Linked DNA regions of Homo sapiens. The protein of the gene in region 1 interacts with the protein of each later gene in a pairwise test. Each region holds a gene or a part of one and is shown in the gene's direction. Other genes may lie near its edges. The genes, in order: CSTPP1 and FH.

What was found.
Region 2: the proteins of CSTPP1 (region 1) and FH interact in binary tests that used the Homo sapiens proteins (3 or more experiments, as listed by UniProt).

Annotation. Positions count from the first base shown.
Region 1 is NC_000011.10:47,051,699-47,058,946, forward strand, and holds part of CSTPP1 (centriolar satellite-associated tubulin polyglutamylase complex regulator 1), read left to right. Parts: intron 1-689; coding exon 690-820; intron 821-7,248. UniProt on the Homo sapiens protein: Regulator of the tubulin polyglutamylase complex (TPGC) that controls cytoskeletal organization, nuclear shape, and cilium disassembly by balancing microtubule and actin assembly.
Region 2 is NC_000001.11:241,497,046-241,502,946, reverse strand, and holds the end of FH (fumarate hydratase, mitochondrial), read left to right. Parts: intron 1-376; coding exon 377-504; intron 505-2,356; coding exon 2,357-2,510; intron 2,511-4,976; coding exon 4,977-5,119; 3' UTR 5,120-5,344; downstream 5,345-5,901. UniProt on the Homo sapiens protein: Catalyzes the reversible stereospecific interconversion of fumarate to L-malate. Experiments in other species have demonstrated that specific isoforms of this protein act in defined pathways and favor one direction over the other.

The DNA of each region.
Region 1 (7,248 bases):
TTTTTTTTTTTGAGACTGAGTCTCACTCTGTTGATCAGGCTGGAGTGCAGTGGCATGATCTCGGCTCACTGCAACCTCCACCTCCCAGGTTCAAGTGATTCTCCTGCCTCAGCCTCCCGAGTAGCTGGAATGACTGGTGCACGCCACCATGCCCAGCTAATTTTTGTATTTTTAGTAGAGACAGGGTTTCACCATGTTGGCCAGGCTGGTCTCCAACTCCTGACCTCAAGTGATCCACCCGCCTTGGCCTCCCAAAGTGCTGGGATTACAGGCGTGACCCACTGCGCCCAGCCCAGAAATAATATCTTTAAGGAAACCTAATTCCAAATGCAGTAGAGGGAAAAGTATTCTCCAAAAAGAAAGATATGAGTGCCAGTGTCATCCAGTTAGAGGCTAAAAGGCTTTCCTCCATATGCGTTGCTCGAATGACTGATTCAGATGTCCTCTGTGTGTACCTGTGGAAGGTGGGAAGCACTCAGAGGAACTGGCCTCCAAGAGTTTTCGGAAAGGTATGGTTATATGAAGAGACTTCCCCATAGAAGGACTAGGTCTAATCTAGAGTTCAGAGTTTTGTTGGGGAGAAAAATTCCCCGTTTTTGGCAGTGGTTCTCTCTGGTCTCAATTTTTCATTCTGATTCCAGCCTTCTGGATTCCATCTAACAATGACTTCTTGACTTTTCTCTTTGCAGTTTTAACAGTGTATGCCAGGGAACACACATTCTCTTTCGAGAATTCAGCTTCGTCCAAGCCACCCCCCACAATAGGGTATCATTTTTACGGGCCTTCTGGAGATGCTTCCGAACTGTGGGCAAAAATGGCGGTAAGTCTTCCCAAATTCTTTTTCCTTCCTTCCTTCCTTCCTTCCTTTCTTCCTTCCTTCCTTCCTCTCTCTCTCTTTCTTTCTCTCTCTCTTTTCCTCTCTTTCTCTTTCAAACTTTTTCTTTTGTTCCTATAAATATTGTTTGAATGCATGCTATTCAAGGCATTTAGAATACCTCACTTTTGAGGAGTTGTCTGGTTTATGTCAAAGATATTACTATTACCACTACCATCACTAATGGTACCTATTAAGAGCCAAGTGTAGCTCTTTACATGTAGTAACTCATTTATCTTTACAAGGGCTCTCTGTGGTAGATACCATAATCCCCATTTTGTAACTAATGAAACTGAGGATCAGAGAGGTTAAGTAACTTGGCAAGGTTACATAGTAAATTCTGGGCCCAGATTTATACCCAGGCAGTCTGACTTCACAGCCCTTGCTCTTGGCAGATATTAAAATGCCATGCAGTAAATACAAGGAATAATGTGAATATGAAGAAAGAAACTCCTGAATGGGGGTGGGATGGGGATACTGTTGTTAGAGAAGGGAGAGAAAAGTGGAGTAGAGAAGGTTCTCCTTAGAACTGACTGTTTGATCTAAGCTGGGAAGGAAGAGTAGGAATCATTCACATGGATAAAGGAGAGAAGGGCATCCTAGGTAGAACATATGCTGAAGCACAAAAGAACCTAGAATACTTACATAACAGATCAGGATGTCTAGAGTTTGTGTGGAGTTTATGAAGGAGGTTAGGGGAGATGAGACTGTAAAGGAATAATGGAGCTGCTGAAAGATCATTTTTTAGCCATAAAAAAGAAATTGGGCCAGGCACAGTGGCTCAGCCTGTAATCCCAGCACTTTGGGATGCCAAGGCAGGTGGATCACTTGAGGTCAGGGGTTTGAAACCAGCCTGTCCAACATGGTGAAACCCCGTCTCTACTAAAAATACAAAAATTAGCCAGGTGTGGTGGCGCACTCCTATAATCCCAGCTATTCAGGAGGCTGAGGAACGAAAATCGTTTGAACCCTGGGGGACAGAGGTTGCCGTGAGCCGAGATCGTGCCACTGCTCTCCAGCCTGGACGACAGAGCAAGACTCTGCCTCAAAAAAAAAAAAAAAGAAAAAAGAAAAGAAAAGAAATTGGGGCTGGATGTGGTGGCTCACACCTGTAATCCCAGCATTTTGGGAGCCCAAGGTGGGAGGATCACTTGAGCCCAGGAGTTTGAGACCAACCTGGACAACATACTGAGACTTCGTCTCTACAAAAAAATAAACAAAATTAGCCAGGTGTGGTGGCACATACCTGTACTCACAGCTACTTGGGAGGCTGAGGTGGGAGGATCACTTGAGCTGAGGGAGGTTGAGGCTACAGTGAGTCATGATTATGCCACTGACTCTAGCCTAGGTGACAGCGAGATCCTGCTTCAAAAAAACAAACAAACAAACAAAAAAGTTAAATTTTATTCTCTGGGTATTATTTGAAGGCTTTTTTTTTTTTAAAGACCCTGTTGCAGCCGGGCACGGTGACTCATGCCTGTAATCTCAGCACTTTGGGAGGCCGAGGCGGGCAGATCACAAGGTCAGGAGATCGAGACCATCCTGGCTAACATGGTGAAACCCCATCTCTACTAAAAAATACAAAAAAATTAGCCGGGTGTGGTGGCGGGTGCCTGTAGTCCCAGCTACCCGGGAGGCTGAGGCAGGAGAATGGTGTGAACCCAGGAGGTGGAGCTTGCAGTGATCCAAGATCGCGCTACTGCACTCCAGCCTGGGTGACAGAGCAATACTCCGTCTCAAAAAAAAAAAAAAAAAAAAAAAGACCCTGTTGCCCAGGCTGGAGTGCAGTGGCATGATCATATGATCATAGTTCACTATAACCTTGAGCTTCCAGGCTCAAGTGATCTTCCTAACTCAGCCTCCCAACTAGCTAGGACTACAGGTACATGCCTACCATACCTAGCTAATTTTAAATTTTTTTGTAGAGACGGGGTTTTGCTGTGTGGCCCAGGCTGGTCTCAAACTCCTGGGCTCAAGGCCTCAGCCTCCCAAAGCACTGGGATTACAGATGTGAGCCACCATGCCCCATCTTATTTGAAGGCTTTTAGATAGGAGAGTGGTGTGGTGATATCTGAGCTCTAGAAAGATCATTCAAAAGGCAGTGTAGAAGATGGCCTAGACTAGAGACAAGGAACATAGAAGTCTGGTAGTAGTTGAGTGAGAGATTAGACCCAACACTAAGGCAGTATGGAGACAGAAGGGGCACTTTCAGAGATAGAATCCATAGGATTTGGTGATTGGATTTGGCATTAAGATGAGAGAGAAGACCGTGGTAATTTCCAAGTTTTTGGCTTGGGCCACTGGGTAAGAATATTTTTTAAAAGCCTTCAAGTAATAGCCACAGAATAAATTTCAATTTTTTTTTTTTTTTTTTTTTTTTTTTTTGGAGACAGGGTTTTACTCTGTCACCCAGGCAGGAATACAATGACACAATCTCAGCTCACTGCAGCCTCGACCTTCCAAGCTCAGGTGATCCTCCCACCTCAAGTAGCTGGGAATATATTTGTGCACTACCATGTGTGGCTAATTTTTCTATTTTTTATAGAGTTGGGGTTTCGCTATGTTATCCAGGCTGGTCTCAAACTCCTGGGCTCAAGCCACTCGTCCACCTCAGCCTCCCAAAGTGCTGGGGTTATAGGCGTGGGCTACCATGCCTGGTCTCCTACTTTCATATTATGTGTTTTCATAAATACCTTTAAGACAATTTCTTGCTTGCTTGCTTTTCTTTTTCTTTCTTCTTTCTTGCCTTCCTTCCTTCGTTCCTTCCTTCCTTCCCCTCCCTCCCTCCCCTCCCTTCCTTCCTTCCCCTCCCCTCCCCACTGAGGTTATAGTCAGTGAATAGGTAGTCTCCCTGCTTTTGAATTTATGAGATTCCCCACCATGCTCTAATCAATGCTACTGCTACGAAACTGTAACTTTTCTAAATAGCTACTAAATATATAGCTATTAAACTTTTATATGTAGTTACTAAATCTTTTCTAAAACTTTTCCACCCAATATCTTATTAGTTCCACTGCCCTAAGAAATAGGTAAAGTGGGTATTATTGTGCCCATTTTGTAAATAATGAAATTGTGTAACTTGCAGAAAGATTTCATGGTGAATTAGTAGCAAAGCTAGAAATTGAACCCAGATTTACTAATATGCTGATGTGCTATTTCTACTATTTTTACTTCAATCATTGCCTCTTTGACATATAACTCTGGAGATCATGCATCTCCATTACAGTATTATGAAAGAAGTACTTAGTGTACTGAGGATCGTATCATTTCCCTTACAGAATAAATGCACTAATAGGCAAAAACCAATGTGGACTCAATTTTAAGTTAAGTAATTCAGAAAAACTATTCCATTGGTCTCTATGTAAACAAAACTGGGAACTGTGAGTATATAGGTAAAGCTCGTGCTATGTTATCAGAGGTTATCTTTCCCAGTCCCTCACTCAGTCAGCAAATATTTGTTTTAGACCACCTAGTACAGTCGTCTCTCAGTCTATGCAGGGATTGGTTCCAGGACCCCTGTTTATACCAAAATCCACGCATAATCAAGGCCTACATTAGTCCTGTGGAACTCTCATATGTGAAAAGTCAATCTTCCGTATACAGGGCTTCATATCCCTAGAATAGTGTATTTTCGATCCATATTTGGTTGAAAAAAATCCACCTAAAAGTGTGGACCTGCACAGCTGAAACCTGTGTTGTTCAAGGGTCAGCTGCATGTTGAAGAATATGGCTAGAGCTAGTTTCTGTGATAGAACATATGGAGATAACTATGGAAAACAGTCTTCAGATAGCCTTAACTTTTTTCCTGATATAGAAGTGGGGCCTCTTCAAGAATGTATTTACTATCACGAGGGATTCATATAGCATTTGGACTCTTAGCAGATGTGGGTTTCTTTATCTTTCTAATAGCAGCTGCCAGTGACTCATCCAGCTGCTAAGAATAAGCAGCTCCAAATTCCCCCAGTTTCTCCTTGTGCCATAAACAAGACCTAGATTTTATGCTGGCTGTTTATTGTTATCCTTCTTAATCAGACAGCCTCAGATTTCTTAGACTAAATGCAACATCTGTGTCTAGGTGTTCCTAAAATAATTGGTTAAGTAGCTTTAATGTATTCTCAGCTTTTTCTAGGAAACTCCAGAACATCTTTCTAAACCAGAATGTGTCAATCTCCAATTTTAATCCGGAATTAGTGAAAACTCTTGGCGGCAAGGTTCTAAAGGAAAGGATTTATTAAGCCCCATTTTATCAATTATAATGCCAGGTACCTACCTACTCAGTGGAACTCCTACTGCATTATTCTTCTGCAGATAACTTCCTTAGAATGTCATGTGCATACTTTAGCATTATCAAGTGGAAAGTAACTCTTCTGGGAGGTAGCAAAACAAGAGCATAACATATCTAAAAATGAAGCCACCTGTAGAACTCTAAGGACCTGGTCCCTTTTGACAAAAAATATTTTATTCCAGTTTTTAGCAAGTACAGGATATGATATCTTTTCTGCATGACTGAGTACTGATGCTAATTATCTTGTCCAAATTTTAGATAATCTCATGAAGACTGTAACAAACCTCTTGGTATCTAAGCAACTTTAGACTCTTGGAAGCAAAAGTTATATTAGAATTTTAAAAGCCTTTAAAATTACACTTCTCACTTTGCTAATTTTTTCTGTATAGGAATATTAATCTGAATTTTCTAAGTCTGGCAAAGATTGATATTCTCTTAATGTAAATCTTTACTTCTGTTTAGGGATATCGGCTCAAAAGTGCCTTCTCCAAGTTTATTTTCAATTAGAATTTAATTTTCAATATATACATATATACACATACATACATATATATATTTCATTTGATAAAATAATGATAGGTACTTCCTCTTCTATCTGTGAAGAAGTATCTACTAAGGGAATTGCCCTCTTGCCACTAACAATGAGAAAATCAGCATATCTGAAACAACAGTTTTCAGACATTGGGCAATAGGCAGTGGGGGCTGTGGATTCTGAGAGCCAGTTTCCAAGCAACAGTATAGGGAGAGAGATTGTCAAAGAGCTTAGCAGTGTTATTGAGTTGAGGAGGCAGAGACTGGGGTTTAGGGAGGCTGGAGCAGCCAGTATTTACAGGTCAGAATCCAAGAGAGGAAGAAGTTGTTCAGTGAGCTCCAGAATCTTTGGCTACAAATTCTGCATATGTGTGGGCTGGAAAAAGAACCACCAGAAAACAGTGGGCCAAACAATTTCTGGAGTATACAAGGGGCTAAGGATAATTCAAACTTCTACCAGCCATAGGGAAGAGACCTCAAAACACACCGGGCACTGGGTAGAGTTCTCAACAGTTTAAAAGCAAAAAGGATTAAATCGATCCGCAAGTAATTTAATGCTATATAAGAACAAAATTCAATAATCTTTAAAGGAATTTAACAAAATCCAGCATTCAGCAATGCAAAATTCACAAAGTCTGACATCCAATTCAAAATTACCAGACAGGCCAGGCATGGTGGCTCATGCCTACAATCCCAGGACTTTGGGAGGCCAAGGCAAGTGGATCACTTGAGCCCAGGAGTTCATGACCAGCTTGGGCAACAGAGCAAAACCCTGTCTCTACAAAAAATTTAAAAAATTAGCCAGGTGTGACACCTGTGGTCCCAGCTACTCTAATGGCTGAGGCGGGAGGATTGCTTGAGCCTGGAAAGTTGAGGCTGCAGTGAGCTGTGATCGCACCACTGCACTCAAGCCTGGGCAATAGAGTAAGACCCTGTCTCAAAAACAAAACAAAACAAAATAAAATTACCAGACATTAAAAGAAGCAGGAAAATACAGCCCATAACCAGGAGAAAAATTAATCAATAGAAACACAGATCCAGAAATGACAGAGATGATGGAATTAACTAACAAGGACCTTAAAATAGTTATTTTAAATCATATAAATATGCTTAAGTATGTAAAGAAAACATGAATATGATTAGGAGATTAGTGGAAGATATTAAAAAGATCCAAATGGAATTTCTAGACATGAAAAATACAATATAGTGAAAATGATAATAATAGCAATTAACATTTATTAAGTGCTTCTATGTAGATTATCTCATTTTTCTTCACAACAACCCTATGTGTTAGGTAGATGCTATTATTTCCTTTGCATAGAAAATGAAACAGATTTAGAATGTTAAATAACTTGCTGTAGGTCACACACCCAGTCAATGAAAAAGCCAATGCCAGGAGAAGCCATGAAGTCTGACTCCAGGCTGTATTATTGCTTCAGCGTGTTATGCATCAACACTGCATGACAGGCTGGAAATACAAATGAGTAAGTGACAATACTTGCCCTCAAGGAGCTCTTATTCTAGGAGAAGAAACAGTAGCATAGGAACCAACCCAAAT
Region 2 (5,901 bases), on another chromosome or scaffold:
CTCTGTATTTACCCCTTATAATTGCCAGCTCTTTCTCCCTAGCCTCCAAGTTCTGCGAGGGCAGGGCCTGCATCTTTCTTATTCAGTGTTGTATATTGAGTGCCTGGCTCCATAAATATGTATAGAATGAATGAAAATCATGAAGGTGGAGAACTATATTTAATGTGTAGTTGTGGCTACTCGTTAGCCTTTGAATGATTCATTTTGTGGCTACCCATCCCACCTTCCTTGGTTGGTTTGTTTCATTAAATTACACTGATGGTTGGGCCTTGCTTTATTGTATATCTTACTCTATTTAGTGAAATTAGATTTCTTTATTCTCCTGATTATTTGCATAAATTTAGTCTTTACTCTGTCATTGGTGGTTTTCTTGAAGGCAAGGTGAACCCTACTCAGTGTGAAGCAATGACCATGGTTGCAGCCCAAGTCATGGGGAACCATGTTGCTGTCACTGTCGGAGGCAGCAATGGACATTTTGAGTTGAATGTTTTCAAGCCAATGATGGTAAGCTTTAAATCTGATTTTTAATGTTTTTTGACCAAAGGCTTATTATCTTGGTTTTGTATTTCATAAAGACTTCTAGTGATTCCACATTGGGTAGTTGGGTGACATAAGTAGCAGTTGGAAGTCAAGCATTTATTAAGTTACCAGAATAATCCTAGATAATAGAAATTAGTTGACTTTTAACCTAAGCAATTTGATGTTTTTTTTAATAGCCCGTTTAAGAAAAATAAAATGCCTCCCTACAAGCCTGTCTCCTTCTCATGCTGCTGCTTTCTTCTTCAAATTCAGTCTTCTTGGAAGGATAGCACATACTCACTTTCATTTATGCTGTAGTCACCACAGCCCAGCATGGCCCCCTCCACGCTTGAATTATTCTCCCATTCATTGGTGACTACCTCAGTCCAGCTGGCATTGCGCAGTTAGTTCTTCCCTTACTAATAGTTGATGTTGACTGTCCCTCCTTGAAACATTCTTCATCCCTGCTTTCTTGAACATTTTTTCACCAGTTCTTCTTCTGCCCCCTGTCAGACTTCGTTTCATTGTCTGGCTTTACCTTTCCACATACTTGAAAACATTGTGTCCACCCAAACCGTTCTTTTTCTTTCGTCTTTACGAAGATCGATAGATGCATCGCGCCATTTCTCATCAGTTTCCTCAGCTGCAGATAGTGGAGCTGTTGCCATAATTTAGAGTCCTTCATTTGGACAAAGTGTTATAGCTAAAGTAGAGTAGGGGCTTACTTTCTCTTGGAATCTCTTCTAAATTCTAATTTTAATTTTATAAGAATATGCAAATGACAAATATGGAGTATATTTAATATATTCACTAAATATTTATTGAGTACCATTTTCTATCAGGCACTGTACTGGATGCATAATAGAGATAGAGCAATGAAAAGACAGATTTCTTGCTCTCATGGAATGTATATCCTAGTGGTAAATAAAAACACAGGCCAGAGCAGAACTCAGACTGTTAAAATTTTGCTCTCAGGTCAGATTCCAAACAGTTAACACGAGATACCCAGCATTTATAGGTGCATAACAATAAATGCCTTGTTAATCTTTTTAAAATTTTATTTTTAATGTAAAATAAAGATAATCAATATTTGCCTTATTACAAGGTCATTAGTAGCAAATTAAAACTTAGATTATATGTCTTAGAGTCCATTGTTGGAAGTCTAGTTTTCAGACCGGAGTTTTAGACCAGAGGATATTAGGATTTGGATATATCTTAATAAATATTGGAAATGTTGCCAACAAAGCCAAAACAAACTAATTGATTTTATACTGTTTTTTAATATTATATGAAAAGTTATTTTACAGTGACTGGAGTATTCGTTAAAGCATAGAAAACCTAGAAATTTGGTGATCATTAGATTTTGCCCTGACTTTACTAATTGCCTCACACTCATACTGAACTTTCGAACCTCTGCATCTTTGCTCCTCTTCCTTCTGCGTGGAAGATTCTTTTTCCTTCTCTGGCCAAGTCCTCTCCATAAAATAGGATTTCACCAGTTCCGACAACTGGAGTTAATTTCTCTTTCTCTATGGTCTCTAACACTTCAGACCTCTGTTTTAAATACTTGCTATGGGCTATTTTGTGTTTTAGTCATTTGTATTTATGTCTTTTTCACCTTTTTTAGATTTCTGTGCCTTCAAATGTTCATGCTTTCTTTCACATTTGTTTCCTTGGTTATAGTGCCTTAAAATTTGTAGAAGATCTATATGTTTATTGAATTGTATATTTACTGTCAACCAGAAAATAATATGTTATTGGACAAAAAACATGTTGCCTTAGTAATGTCTCTCTCTCTCTCTCTCTCTCTCTCTCTCTCTCTCTCACTCACTCAAAGATTAAAAATGTGTTACACTCAGCCAGGCTGCTGGGGGATGCTTCAGTTTCCTTTACAGAAAACTGCGTGGTGGGAATCCAGGCCAATACAGAAAGGATCAACAAGCTGATGAATGAGTCTCTAATGTTGGTGACAGCTCTCAATCCTCATATAGGTAAGTGTTTAAGGAATAATAATATCATTTTGAATGCAAAATTAAAAAGCTAAACCATTTTTAAGAGACAAGTGGATCAGTGTTTGAGAACAGCAAATTTCTTTTGAATATGGTTTTAGTAAAATCTCAAAATATTTGAAATTGTGTGGAAAGGTACTATATAACTTGTATGGTGTCATAGTTCTTTCAAAACTAGATCTATTATGCCTCATTTTATTTGAAATGTATCGAGAAGTAGTAGTTCAAACTTATTTTGATTTTAATGGAATTCAGACGCCAAATATTCTATGCAGACCATTGGGGAAGGTTATTTGTAAGACCTTCAGTGGGTAATGTCACTAGGTGGCACTGCTGATTAGCAACATTGAATGAACTCATTTTTCTACCTTCCCTAGATCTCTACAATGCTTTAATTTTGTTGTTTTATTCAATTCAGAAATGGAAAGTTACAATTAAAAGAAAAAGTTTATGTATTCATTGCTTATAGTGAAAGGGAGGAAGGAAAATGCAAATATTTTGTCTAAAACCATGCTATTGTATTATAAGTCTTTTTTGGAACTGTAAATATTTCATTATGTAGAATCAAACATACAGATTTGGGTAGTAGACTGACCATAGAGATCTCCATTAAATAAACTGTTTACACTTTTGTAGATTTTGAGGCATTATGTTGCATTATATTATGATGTGTTAAAAGCCTTTTACCCATTCTTCCTTTCTGCTAAGCAGAGGTTAATATATTTTCTGCCTTTCTGTTATAGAACAAGTTATGATTCACTTATTTGGCATAATATGGCTACTGCTTCTTCTATAATCTTGAACTTTCAAGGCAAATTTTATATTCCTGGTTTCACATCAAGCTATAATTACAGTTTTTTAAAATTAGAGCTCATTTGACTCTTTTAGGTAGCTCTGAGCCCAGTATGATATCAGTTTTTTGGTGTGGCATTGAGATTGGTAATAATGTTTGATCCATTTAAAATTATGGTACATCAACTACATCTGGAAAAACACAAAGGGGAACCCAGAGGCTCGTGTGAGCAGTTTTCATCAGATCTTTACTTCAGAATGTGTTACCAAAACTTTAAATTAGAGGTGTCTCCTAAAGTTGAATGATTGGCAAATCTTTATTGGAATCAACTTATTGTGACATAAAAAGAATTGTTAGAGGCCATATGAGAATGAGATGGGTCAACACCACCTCACTAGTTGACTTGGTGTGAGCCTTACAACCCTCTGAATCATGGGTTCCCTATATTCTCATTATGTACCAGGCTGGTTGCCAATAGTGTCTTGTTGGACTTGACAGCTGAAATGCTTAGACTTTAAAGCCATTATTAAAATAAAAGTACTGGATATATATTGATCTCAAGAGTTTAACATGCAAATTCTTTCTCAAAGCATTTCTGCTTTAAGAAAGATGCCCTTTTCAGTAAATGGCATCAATAAATGCCCTTTCAGATCAATAAATGCCCTTTTCAACATATTTAGCATTCACAAATTCAGTTAAGTAATAAAAGTAACTATGCCCATGCTTTCTTTTATAGCTGATTAATAATTGCATATTGACACATGCCATCTTATTGATGATGTATACTGCCTCAGCAAGCTTCTTCCTTTTGGTCATATTTCTCTGATCTTGTTTTTTTTCTCCCGCATTGGTTTCATTTTCATTCCTGCTTTTTCTTCTTGACATATATATATATATATATATATATATATATATATATATATATATATATGTTAAGACAGCTTGCAGAACTGCCCTGCCCCCACTTTTATTAATTTGAAAAGCAAATAACTCTGAAGTAAACAGTATGCCTGTGATCTTTTGTGCAGTCTGTATTTCTGCCCAGACTCCCTATTTGTGTCCCTGTAATGTCTGGGAGGAGGCCAGGGTATAGAAGCCATTGCAGTGGAGAGCCACATAGAGAAGAGCCATTGGAAGCAGCTCTGGAGGCACCCCTCCCCAGGCCCTGCCTGCGCCTGCCTCACTGCGAGGACTTCTCCCCTCTCAGAGCCACTCACCACAGTTGCCAGACGTGCAGTGCTTTATTTTCTGCTGGACTGGAGCATTTAGCTTGTTAATGTTTCTTTAGAAAGATAATTGTTTCTAGTTAAACATGTTGTTTGAAAAATATACCCAGATGTATATTTTTATGTCGTGGTGCTATAATTTCTACTTTTTTCCCCTTCAAAATATCTAAGTTACTGGAAAATTTCAACTTAGGAACAAATCTGTTGGAGAAAGTGAGGTATGTTTAAGTGTTTATTTCTTAAGGAAAGTAAATGTTCTACATAAAAAATGATTATTGAGATAATCACTGTTAACTAATTTAAAAACAAAAAATGTCATTTAAGAGGCCCATATAGCATCAATATCAAGTAAACAATTATGTCACCTTTTGCTTTAGGAAACCAAATATCACTGCTAACCCATATGTCGTCTTTTTATTTTTTCTTCAGGGTATGACAAGGCAGCAAAGATTGCTAAGACAGCACACAAAAATGGATCAACCTTAAAGGAAACTGCTATCGAACTTGGCTATCTCACAGCAGAGCAGTTTGACGAATGGGTAAAACCTAAGGACATGCTGGGTCCAAAGTGATTTACATAAATTTATAATGAAAATAAACATGTATAAAATTTAAAAAAACAGACTCCCATTTCTTAAAAACGGATAAGTTTGAAAGGAAACTGCTATTGAACTTAAGCATCTCTAGCAGAGCAATTTGATCAGTATATAAAACCCTAGGATGTGCTAGGTCTAAGATGGATTAAACAAGTATAAAATAAAATACATTTATAAAATAAAAAGGAAAACAGACTTAAATTTTCTCCTATGTTAATTGACTTGTATTATAGTTGAATCTATGATATTTGTGCATGTTGTCTTTGTGACTTCATAAGTTACCAATTTCTAAAGGGTTTTAATTTTGGAGGTTATTGGTGGTTTAAAAAATTGCCCGATTATATCTTATTATCTCATTCCCAAACTATGTCCTTAGCCATCTTTTATTTTCCTTTGATTTGGAGACACAGTGACCAAGCCCTTTTGAGTGGGGATGTGTATATGTGTGTGTGTGTGTGCACGCACGTGTGTGTGTGTGATAGAATAGGTTAAGAAAATTGGGACATACATATCCTGTGTGTTAAACACACACCTATCCCTCCAACCTTGTTTCTGTTACCACAGAGGGACCAGATCAAGGCCAGGCATGGTGGGTCAGGGACACCGACTTTAGGAGACTGCGCTTTGGGAAACTGAGGCAGAAAGATCATTTGAGCCTAGGAGTTTGAGACCAGCCTGGGCAGCATAATGAGATCCCTATCTCTACAAAAAATAAAACAAAAATTAGGCAGGCTTGGTAGTGTGTGCCTGTAATCCCA